Linked DNA regions of Homo sapiens. The protein of the gene in region 3 purifies or fractionates together with the protein of the main gene of each other region. This does not show direct contact. Each region holds a gene or a part of one and is shown on either strand. Other genes may lie near its edges.

Region 1 (3,754 bases), on a different chromosome or scaffold from region 3:
AAATGCCTGTGAATAAGGAAAATGGCAGATAAGTGTTTCATCCATATCATGGAATAACAAAGACTTTTGTGTTTCTTTTTGAGACAGAGTTTCACTCTTGTTGCCCAGGCTGGAGGGCAGTGGCGCAATCTGGGAAACCTCTGCCTCCTGGGTTCAAGCGATTCTCCTGCTTCAGCCTCCTGAGTAGCTGGGATTACAGATGCCTGCCACCATGGCTGCTAATTTTCTGATTTTTAGTAGAGATGGGGTTTCACCATATTGGCCAAGCTGGTCTCGAACTCCTGACCTCAGGTGATCCACAGGCCTCGGCCTCCCAAAGTGCTAGGATTACAGGCGTGAGCCACCATGCCAGGCCGAGATATTTTAAAAGAATCAACTAGATAAGTACTCTGATGTAGCACAAAGGAAAGAAAGACATTGGACCATTCTATGTAGAGCACACTGTTCAGTCGGACTTGAGGCAAGTGAGGGAGTTACAGAAGTATATAAAGCTAAAGTATTATTTGAAGGTTATCTTAAAAGTAGTACTCATGTACTACTTCATAATTCTTAAAAACTAAACATTCTTCCTCAACTTTTGAGTAAATGCTTTAAAAATGACACTAACACTCATTTTTTACAGTTGTGATTAGTCAAAAGATGGAGAAGTGATTTTTTTTTTCAATTTAAAGTAACCATCTCCCAATCCAGAAAAGATTAGGAATTGATCTCATTCTACCTGCTTCTAAGGTGTCTGGTTCATCAGGTCTCTGGGCAATCTGTAAGTAATAAAGCAGAGAGCCATACAAGTGAGTCCTCACTCGTTGGAATCCACCACCTAGGGAGATTAGGAAGATGTCAAATGAAAATCTTTTCTCAATTAAAGTTAAAACAAATACAAAAGATAGAATTTATAGACAATTTAAATGAAAAAAACCTGTCTTCAAAATGAAGTCTAACAGTTTCTTCAATATGATGTAAAGTGAAGAATCTCCAATAGAAGCAAAACCCACTAATGGGTTCTCTTCAGGAGGAGGTGAGGTGAAGCAACTATCAAGCATAAAAGCGTAATGGGCCTCTGCTGGTCCCAAGACTGATGTTTCCTTCTGTTCAGTGAGGACGGCCTGGCTTAGGTGAGCAGTCAGTGTGAACACTGCCCCGGCGACCACAGGCATTAACTCTTGCGCAGCTTCATCATCCAGTATCTTAAAGGACAAGGGCAAATTAGAGTGAGAATCCTGCTTTCAGCTATAATCATTAACAAATTTCATAGCTTTTTTTTTTTGAAGACAGGGTCTCGCTCTGTCACCGAGGCTGGAGTGCAGTAGCATAATCTCAGCTCACTTCAGCCTTGACCTCCTGGGCTCAGGAGGTCTTCCCACCTCAGCCTCCCGCAACTGTGACTACAGGTGCACACCATCATGCTCGTAGAGATGGAATCTCACTATGTTGCCCAGGTTGGTCTCAAACTCCTGGGCTCCAGTGATCCTCCCACCTTGGCCTCTCAAAGTTCTGGGATTGCAGGCATGAATCACTGCACACAGCCCATTAACAAGTTTTATATACATTTAGCTTGTCAACTATGGTAACAATATAAGAATGGAATACAGAAATTAGTCAAGAAAGAAAGAAAGAAAGAAAGGAATCTAATATATACAGAGAAATTTAAACATGATGCTAGGTAATGGGTGTTCTTAACCAGAAGGGATTCCTATCAGAATTCCCTAGGGAGGTTTTCTTTTTGAAATTCACATAAATGGTCTCACCACTACATTCAGTAGGTCTGGGGTGGGCTCTGTCCATGTGAATTTTTACAAAGCTCCCGAGATAACTCAGACACACACTCTGGTTGAGAGCCACTACTGTACAGAATTAATCCCTTTCTCAAGGAAAGTCTTAACGTTGGTATTGCACAATTCTATTTTACTCCCAATCGAAAATGGAAAACAATTAGGATGCCAAAATATATTTGTTTAAATGATACATTCGTTCAGCAGTATAAAGTATTTTAGGAAGTACGTCACCTTATCATGCACATCTTGTAAAATATCACGAATAATCAGTTGTCGATCCTCTGCCTGAATGAGGTCCTGGGGACAAGCTGTCAGTATAATTTCTACTAGTTGCCTCCACGACTCCAGAGCATGACGTTTTGCATGAAGACACTGCAGCAATTTATTTCTTCCTACCACATACTGAAGTACAGTGCTGATTTCCTAAAGCCACAGGAATTGAATCACAAGGTTAAACAGGCAAATAAGATCAGTTATCTGTCAGTTACTCAGAAAATATTTATTTGGAAACCTACTACATGCATGCCAGGAAGCAGGTATCTTTTCATATTATTTCAGTAGCCAGGGCTATAAAAAATATTAACATATAAGGTGTGTATGTGTGTGTATGTGCATGAAAGGTAGGGGACAGAAGTGGCATAGATAAATATGTATTTTTTGACACCATCTTCTTTCTCCTTGTACCTGTCTACTTATACTTGCTTACTCTAGAGCACTAGAATTATCTAAACTCCAAGTTCAATGGCATGTTTCTCTGACATCTCTTTTATTTCTTTGCCTCTTGCTTTGGCCTGGCCGGCTGTATCTCCATTCATGTGGTTCTTCCCACCTGACCTCTTATCTGTAACTTTCCACTTGTGATGACAAATGACCCTCCTCTCTCACTGATGGGGACCAAGTGAAGTCTAATACGAAATATGGTCAGGTTGCAAATCCTTAACTAGCCTAGCAGAAAAGGTGTTATTTATTTTGGCATACCAGATAGTTCAGTTTATAAAAGTTATAAAATCAAAAGTGAAAGACTCCCTAAATGTTTAATTTTTAGGCAGCTTACTAATTAGCAAACTACATGTCAATATACTATTTTAGTCTTTTCACCAGCAACCTAAGTAGTTAGAAGTTTGAAACGAACACATACTCAATAGAGCTTACCTCCATTAGTAGAGGTCTCTGTCCTATGGCTGCCATACCCTGAAGGGCATTTACTTCAGCTACAAGAACCCTATGAAGAAGCTGGATAATTAGGAAAAGAAAGAAAAATAAGACATTTCAGACACTGGTAGAACAGTAACACCTAGCAATTACCATAAACTGCCCTAAAGGGAAAGGTGTCAGATACCTTTATATATAATCTAACAGGAGCACTGTCCAATTTCCAGACCAAAATATTAAGTATCCCTTTTCAAGAAGTTAGGTGATATATTAAGTTTTATTTCAGGGATATTTTACAAAAATCACAGTCCTTCCTATAAACTACTAAACCAATGTCTCTATCAGAAAGAAAACCTATATGGTTCTATTTGTTTCTGATGACTTAAAGTCTGAGCCACTTGACACTGCAGATATGTACTTTAAAGCAATCCTCACCTTGACATTGCAGACTGTCTGTCCCCGTAAATTCTTGTGTTCACAGTTAGCAATAACTTGTTCAATCTGGGCCCGATCAAAAAAATCCAACTGCAAAGGCTCAGGGATCTCCTGACTGAAGTCAATCGAGTCAAGAATATTTAGAATTTTTCGACGTACTAGAAATAATAAAAAGTAATTTGATTTTACTTGGGACATTGAAAAGAAAGGCAAGCCATCATATTCAGTTGATTTTCAAAGACAGTGCTATTTTCAGAAAGAGCATAAAATAGTCAAGAAACTGAAAACTGTATTGGAATCTAAATTTGATTTTATTTCTGATACATCCATTAACAAAAATATTTTCTTTCCTTTTGTATAATCCTATTATAAAAAAAATTTTCAGGTGGCAATTA
Region 2 (3,754 bases), on a different chromosome or scaffold from region 3:
CAGTATCAAAATTCACATTTGCATAATAATACATTTCAAGGCCATGAGAGAGGAATGAGAGCAAAGCGCAGAAGCAGCATCTCTCCTCCCTGTGTCTTCCTGAATGAAGCTGAAGGAATCGAGTGGGAGGGACTGTTCTCCTCTTTGGGGGAGCTCTGAGGAATCATGGAAATGGCCCTTAGCATTTGCTTGATATTTCTTTAGAAGATAGGAGTGGGGAGAAGAGGTGAAATTGTTTAAAACATAAAAACAAATAAAGACACTGCAGATTTCTGTGTTCAACTATAATAGCTCTGAAGAAATAAAATATGATTTCAGATTTTTCTCTTTTCTTTCTCAAACACTTCAATCTTAACTCTTCAAAACCCCTTTTCCTTGTGTGTAATACCCTGTTTGCATCAACAGCAACGTGATGTGACGCCCATGTGGGAATGTAATGGCCGCCTCAGGACACAGACTCAAAGGGTAAAAGCGTGCTGCCCGCTCTGCACACGGCAGAAGCTGGAAAATGCCTTGTTTACATGCATGAATGTGTCACAAGTATCACCATATTCCAATTCTCCAGTGCTTACAGAAAAACAAAAAACAAAACAGCCAAAGCCACATGAGCACAAACATACAGACGGAGAAAACTAGGGAATGCAGATGTGTAAACCTGCGCTCTTGGACTAACGTGGGTCTGCGTCGCCTGGGTACCTTCCCCTGTCTCCTCTCCCAAGTCCCAGAATCTCTTCCACTCAACTCTACACTGTGCAATATTGATGCTAATGAAATCTCAACAGCTGCTCCTGGGACTTCCAGGAGGAACTTTGACTTCCCTAATGACTAAAGCTGACCGTCTGTTTGTTTGTATCCAACGGATAGCTTCTTCCTAGAACGGACGGTCTCTGTACTCACAAAGGCACATTCAGAAATACTATACTTAAGTAATTCCTTAGACAAAATTTAAAAAGGGCGGTGGATGATGTTTTAAACACATTTATTCCAACTTATCCCAAAATTTCTGGCAAGAAGTGTCATGCTAAAATGCATCACTTGGTGAGAAACTATACTACCTTTAAAAGGTATGTAACTTCTTAAAGGGTTCCAAAGGTTTTTATTTTGTTTTGCCTAAATACCCACCTTTCCCATTTTTGGCGAACACACATAGGATGTACTGTCCTCCTCTCTGTAAAGCTCTTCTGTAGGGCTAGTCCTGGCAATAAGGCCACTCCACTTTGCCTCCAGTCAACTTTTACAGCCACCCCTCTGGGAGTTGTACACACCTTTCAGTAGCCGAAGGGGAAGGAACGCCAGATTCCGGAAGGCGGGAGAGAAAGCAAAGCACTTCCTTTCACAGCTCTGCTACAACAGCATCATAAGCCACCTTGACAACTTTCTTTTGCAGCTTACTGTGAGCAGTAAAGAGGAATTTCCCTTTTTGAAAAAAAAGAAAAAAACAAAAACCATCCCAACTTGTTGATATTGGCTAGATATGGGTCAATTATAATTGGGAATTTATTTCCAAAGCAATGATTTACAGTTTAAAAATGAAGTTGAGGCACAAAGTGCTTTAAACGGACACTATTTATTCTTTATTTAAAACAGAGTACTTCTTGCCTATTTATCTGATCTTTCCCCTCCCATGAACAAGATAAGCATTTGTCACAGTGAAGAACTGAAGACTGAGCTTTTTGCAAAGACCCTTTGGCCAAGGTAGTACCATTTTTCCTGGCCATGTACAGTTTCTTGTTAAAAACAAATTCAGGTATATAGCTAACTGAAAAGGGAACGATTTAAATTTGGTGAGGCAAACACTGGCAGTTACTGCAACTTTCGTTACTTTTTTGGGTGGCGGTAGGAGGTTATGACAAGAGACTGACAGCTTAAAAACTACTCAAATATTAGGGGTATGCCACAATCACTCGGGATCTGGTCCCGGTGGCCACACGCATGCGGGCAGTGTGGGTGCTGAGCTGCTGGAGGAGTAGCTCTCCACTCCCTGACCTGTGTCCCCCTTTACCACCTCGTAGGTTCATGGCCTCTTTCTTCAGAGGCATGGGGTGGGGAGGTATGGTGAGCAGGTTAGGGAGGGTCGATGTTGAATTTTTATTGTTATTACTATGTTCACAGATTCTTGGAGCTGATAATTATTTCAAATCTAAAGAATGTGATATTACCACCCCCTTTGTCAAACTTAAGAAAAAAAAAACACTATCACTGACAAATAGGGACCATTTCTGAAAATACACACACCTTTGGCGCTGGCCACAAACCCACAGACTGTTATCACAGGGTCTGCACTAACTCTGGAAATCTAGATAATATTCTGTTTTCTTACAGAATGACAATGTCCTCAATAGCATTATGTGTATCTGTGTGTTTCTTGACTGTATGGACTCCCTGTACTTGCAGATAAAGAAGTAAATGTAGTGCGCAGCAGGGTTTGTGAGTTCCCTATTTTCTTAACGACCATGAGGTCTGAAGACTGACAATTCATTGTATACACACAGACCAGAATATTTTCATCCGCATCATCACGCGGCTTTAGTTGTCCACTCACAGGAGGAAAAACACAATTAAAGAACAAGGCTTTTTTTTGTTTTGTTTTTGTTTTTTTTTTTTGCAGTAACACTAAGAAGTATAGTTAATGCATACACATGAAGTGTGACAAAACTTGGCAAAAACACTGCAGAGGAAAGTTTGATTTTTTTTAACCAGCGAAAAATTTATCTCACTTCTAAAGATCTTATAGATACTTAAAAACAAAAATCTCAAATCTAAAACAATAACCGATAAAGCTTTAAATGTTGAATTTTAACTCTGAGGATGGGGAAAAAATGGATCTTTTCTACATAAAGACTCAATTGTTCCCTAATCTTAGAGATGGCTATTAGAGCCAAGTCTGCTGAAAACATCCTGTTTACTCTGCAGAGAAAAACAGGCTTGGCGTAAGCATTTTGCTCAGCATGCAGACATTTTCATTCTGTTTTAGAGAAGAGTCAAGATGGCAGAATATAAAAAATGAAATTAAAAAGTACACAGCATCTGAGGTCAAAATGGAATCTGGCTGTTAACCTTACAAAAATCACCCCCTCACCCAAAAAAAAAAGTGGTAAAAATGAGTGAATAGTTGCAAAAAGTTAACAGCCTATGAGCTTCTAGTTTCTGCGAGATATATGTGTTAATAAAGGTGCTTCCAAATTCTCAGGCAGGAGTTTTATCTTTTCCTTTCTTTTTCCTCTTGCATACCTTCTATACCATATTCAACCCACAGGAGTTTGGAAGAACCGATTGCTAACTTATGCTACATTCATGTCAGAAGAGGTGGGAAAATTCTTACAACAGGAGCCATACTCATAGGAAATCAAGTTGCTATAAATAAAACTAACTAGCAATAAATGGATAAGTGATTTATTGGGGGGACACTGATTAAATAATTTGGTTTGGAACCTTAACTTGCAACACTGCTAAGTTAACTCCTATGAATGTTGTAAATGAAACACGTCCAGGGTTGGGGACTGAGGGATCAGAGATGTTACATGAGCCATCCATTTCTTCACAGTGTCTCAGAGATCTGAACTCTTTTCCACACTTAAAGTTAGGTCATGATACTGGATCTAATTGACAGCAGAGGTCCTCTGTCTGGTGTGAGACACCCCTTTCTCTATTAGTGCTTCTTTTCTTTTGGCTACTCGTGTGGTAGGTAGAAACCAAGTTTGTGATGTTCAGGAGATGTACACACCTCTAAGCCACTAGTAATCAAGTGTTTTAA
Region 3 (3,754 bases):
GAACTGGTAAATCAAAGTAAGGCCGCTCCTCAGTCTCCCAGTGTACCCAAAAAACCTGGTCCTCCAGTGTTGTCATCTGATCCAAATATGCTGAGTAATGAAGAAGCAGGACATCATGTAAGGGACATAGTATATTTTCATTCTGAGAATACACTGTTTAGAAGTTCTCCATGGTAATGGTAGCACAGTCATCTTGGGGAAAGGTGGTAGTTCTTAGAAGTTATCATGTAAGGATTCTTGATTTCTTACTGGAGTTTATAGGGCTAAAGGGTTGTGATGCCCAGAAACAGAGCCTTTAACTGCTAATTTTTACTATTTTCTTTATTTTAGTTTGAACAAATGCTTAAATTGTCACAGCGATCCAAGGATGAGCTCTTTAGTATTGCCCTTTATAATTGGCTAATACAAGTCGACCTTGCAGATAAGCTGCTACAGGTAAATCTTTTTTTATTGCAGTTGTGTTAATTATTCTTAAGGAGCATAACTCAATGATTTAAGCACATATATAGATGTAAAAAATTCAGTTTCTCATCCCATGCCTGCTATTAGATGTTAGTATAAAGCTGAGTAATGCAGTATCTTTTCCTAAGGGGCAAAGTAGGCTACTGCTCCAATTTTCTTGTTAATTCGAAGCTGATTGGGATAGTTTGTATTGCGGGGTAGAAATCACTGGATTATGAATATGAGTCCTGTAGGTCATCTTATCTTAACTCTGCTGTTAAGTCACTGTGACTTCAGATATGTCCTTTTACCTACCCTAAGTTTCAGTGTTCCTCAATCTGTTTAATGAATACATAGCATTTGATAATTTCAATAATGCCTTTGAGCTCAATGTCTAGGAATCAATAGCTGTGTTATCAAAGTTTATTTAAAAATTTGTAATTTTATAGTAAATTTCCCTTTTTTTTTTTTTTTTTTTTTTTTGAGATGGAGTCTGGCTCTGTTGCCCAGGCTGGAGTGCAGTGGCATGATCTCAGCTCACTGCAACCTCCGCCTCCCGGGTTCCAGCAATCCTCCTGCTTCAGCCTCCCAAGTAGCTGGGATTACAGGCACCCGCCACCACGCACAGCTAATTTTTATATCTTTTTAGTAGAGACGGGGTTTTACCATGTTGGCCAGGCTGGTCTCAAACTCCTGAGCTCAGGTGATCTGCCCACCTCAGCTTCCCGAAGTGCTGGGATTACAGGCATGAACCACTGTGCCCGGCCAAATTTCCTTTTCTTTTTTGAGGCAGGGTCTCAATCTGTAGCTTAGGCTGAAGTGCAGTGCAATGGCACGATAATGGCTCACTGTAGCCTTGACCTCCCTAGGCTCAGGTGATCCTCACACCTAACCCTCCTGAGTAACTAGAACTATAGGCCCGCACCACCACACCCAGCTAATTTTTTTGTAGAGACGAGGTTTTGCCATATATTGCCCAGGCTGGTCTCAAACTCCTGAGCTCACATGATCTGCCCACCTCGGCCTCCCAAAGTGCGAGGATTACAGACATGAGTCGCCATGCCCAGCCTACTAAATTATTGTTATCAACCTAATAGAATTGTTTTGGAAACTCTTATGCTAACTGTGGTAAAACAAAAATTGTTTATAATAAGAAAATTTGCCCTCTCTTTTATCTGTTAGTATTGGATTATAATTTTGCTTGTTTTCATAAAACAAGGCAAAGTTGTAGTTGACTTAAAAATACTATATTTTCCTTATCAGGAACATTATCTGTAGGTGGTTAGAAAATTTTTCTGAATAACTATATAATTTCTAGGTTGCTTCTCCATTTCTGGAGCCACATCTAGTCCGAATGGCCAAAGTTGATCAAAACAGAGTTCGTTATATGGATTTACTCTGGCGGTATTACGAGAAGAACAGAAGTTTCAGTAATGCTGCTCGTGTACTGTCCAGACTGGCTGACATGCATAGGTATGGCATAATATTCTTATTGTGAAGAATGATTCAAAACTGAGCTATATGTACTTACATTCAGTTTTCTTTAATTTTAGAAGAATCTAAGTTTTAATATACTGACCTAAATTTTTTAAATAGGATGTTACTTTTTAGTCATAAATGTATTTCTTTATGTGTTGTCTAAAATTGTGGATCTCTCTTATGAGAAATCTAAAATAGATTTTTTTTTAAATCTAATGATTTTTTTTCAAGTTTCAGATGGCTTTTTATGTGTGTTTGGTATGAAACAGTACATACTAATTGACGTATTTGTATCATCAATCCTTAAGAAATTGTGTAACTAAAAATAAGCGTTTTCCCTTCTAGCACAGAAATTTCACTTCAGCAGCGACTAGAGTACATTGCTCGAGCCATTCTTAGTGCCAAAAGTTCCACTGCCATTTCATCAATAGCTGCCGATGGTGAATTTCTTCATGAATTAGAAGAAAAAATGGAGGTAAGTGCTAAAGATCTTAAGCTGTGTCCACATTGAGTACTAGCCACATAGTTATTCCACATTCCATTCTTCCCTTGGTAAGTAATAGGTCTGAGAAGTCATTATTATTCTAGTTGCTTTTGTCTGTTTATATTTATTTTTATGTTTAGATATAAATCTTAAAGATTTTTAAGGATGCACTTGGGTCATAAAAACATTGCTATAATTTAGAAGTTTTCTCTTTGGCACTTCGAAAGGTTTTTCCCAGCTGGGTGCAGTGGCTCACGCCTGTAATCCCAGCACTTTGGGAGGCCGAGGCAGCCAGATCATGAGGTCAGAAGTTCGAGACCAGCCTGGCCAATATGGCGAAACCTTGTCTCTACTTAAAAAAATACAAGAATTAGCCGGGGGTGGTGGCACACACCTGTAGTCCCAGCTACTTGGGAGACTGAGGCAGGAGAATTGCTTGAACCCAGGAAGCGGAGGTTGCAGTGAGCTGAGATTGCACCACTGCATTCCAGCCTGGGAGACAGACTGAGACTCTGTCTCAAAAAATAATAATAATAAAAAATAAATGTTTTTCCCAACTGTTTCAACAGCAAGTGGATTACATCACATTCACCATTTATTTTGGAAGCAAATAAGTAGATGTATGAAGTAGAGTAGGCTAAAATTCCCTAACTAAGAGAATCAAAAACATACCATCGTCCAAATACAAAAGTTTGTTTCTTATTCACAAAAATCCAAGGTGAGTCTTCCTGATTGGCAGCTGGCTTTCCTCCGTGTGGTTGATTTAGGAACCCAAGTTCTATTTTCTGGCACTACCATTCCCTAGGGCCTCTGCTTTATCTTCAGCAGAGGGTGGAAGGAAAAGAAAGAACACATTCACTGTCTTAAAAACTATAGCCCTGACATGACACACTACTTCTACTCACATTCCTTTGAAGAGAACTTGGTTGTATGGCCATACCTCCCCTACAGAGGAGGCTGAGCTGTATAGTCTAACCATTTGGCTACAGTCTTGGAAGGTATAAGTATTGGGCAGCAAGGAGTCTGCCACAGTATACTTCCTGTGAAATCTATTATGTTTAGTTGATGTCTGTTATGATAATATTAGCCTATTATGATAGAAATCTTCATTTATACATTATTTTAGCAAACTTAAAGTCAGATAGTAGGATCCGTTCTTTCAAACGTATGTTGATTTATCATAAATAAATTAAGACATCCTGTTTTCTGCCCAAACTAGGTTGCTAGGATCCAACTTCAGATACAGGAGACACTACAAAGGCAGTATTCCCATCATTCTTCTGTACAGGATGCAGTTTCTCAGCTGGATTCTGAGCTGATGGACATAACTAAGGTAATAAAAAAGCAAGT

Evidence for each region.
Region 1: the proteins of NUP155 (region 3) and NUP205 purify together in Homo sapiens (affinity purification with mass spectrometry; 2 studies listed by BioGRID and IntAct, with this or other methods). This does not show direct contact.
Region 2: the proteins of NUP155 (region 3) and TNRC6B purify together in Homo sapiens (affinity purification with mass spectrometry; 2 studies listed by BioGRID). This does not show direct contact.

Annotation. Positions count from the first base shown.
Region 1 is NC_000007.14:135,616,853-135,620,606, reverse strand, and holds part of NUP205 (nuclear pore complex protein Nup205), read right to left. Parts: intron 3,518-3,754; coding exon 3,360-3,517; intron 3,006-3,359; coding exon 2,925-3,005; intron 2,196-2,924; coding exon 2,004-2,195; intron 1,185-2,003; coding exon 917-1,184; intron 818-916; coding exon 719-817; intron 1-718. UniProt on the Homo sapiens protein: Plays a role in the nuclear pore complex (NPC) assembly and/or maintenance. May anchor NUP62 and other nucleoporins, but not NUP153 and TPR, to the NPC.
Region 2 is NC_000022.11:40,327,870-40,331,623, reverse strand, and holds part of TNRC6B (trinucleotide repeat-containing gene 6B protein), read right to left. Parts: 3' UTR 1-3,754.
Region 3 is NC_000005.10:37,301,420-37,305,173, reverse strand, and holds part of NUP155 (nuclear pore complex protein Nup155), read left to right. Parts: coding exon 1-117; intron 118-330; coding exon 331-435; intron 436-1,759; coding exon 1,760-1,914; intron 1,915-2,265; coding exon 2,266-2,395; intron 2,396-3,623; coding exon 3,624-3,737; intron 3,738-3,754.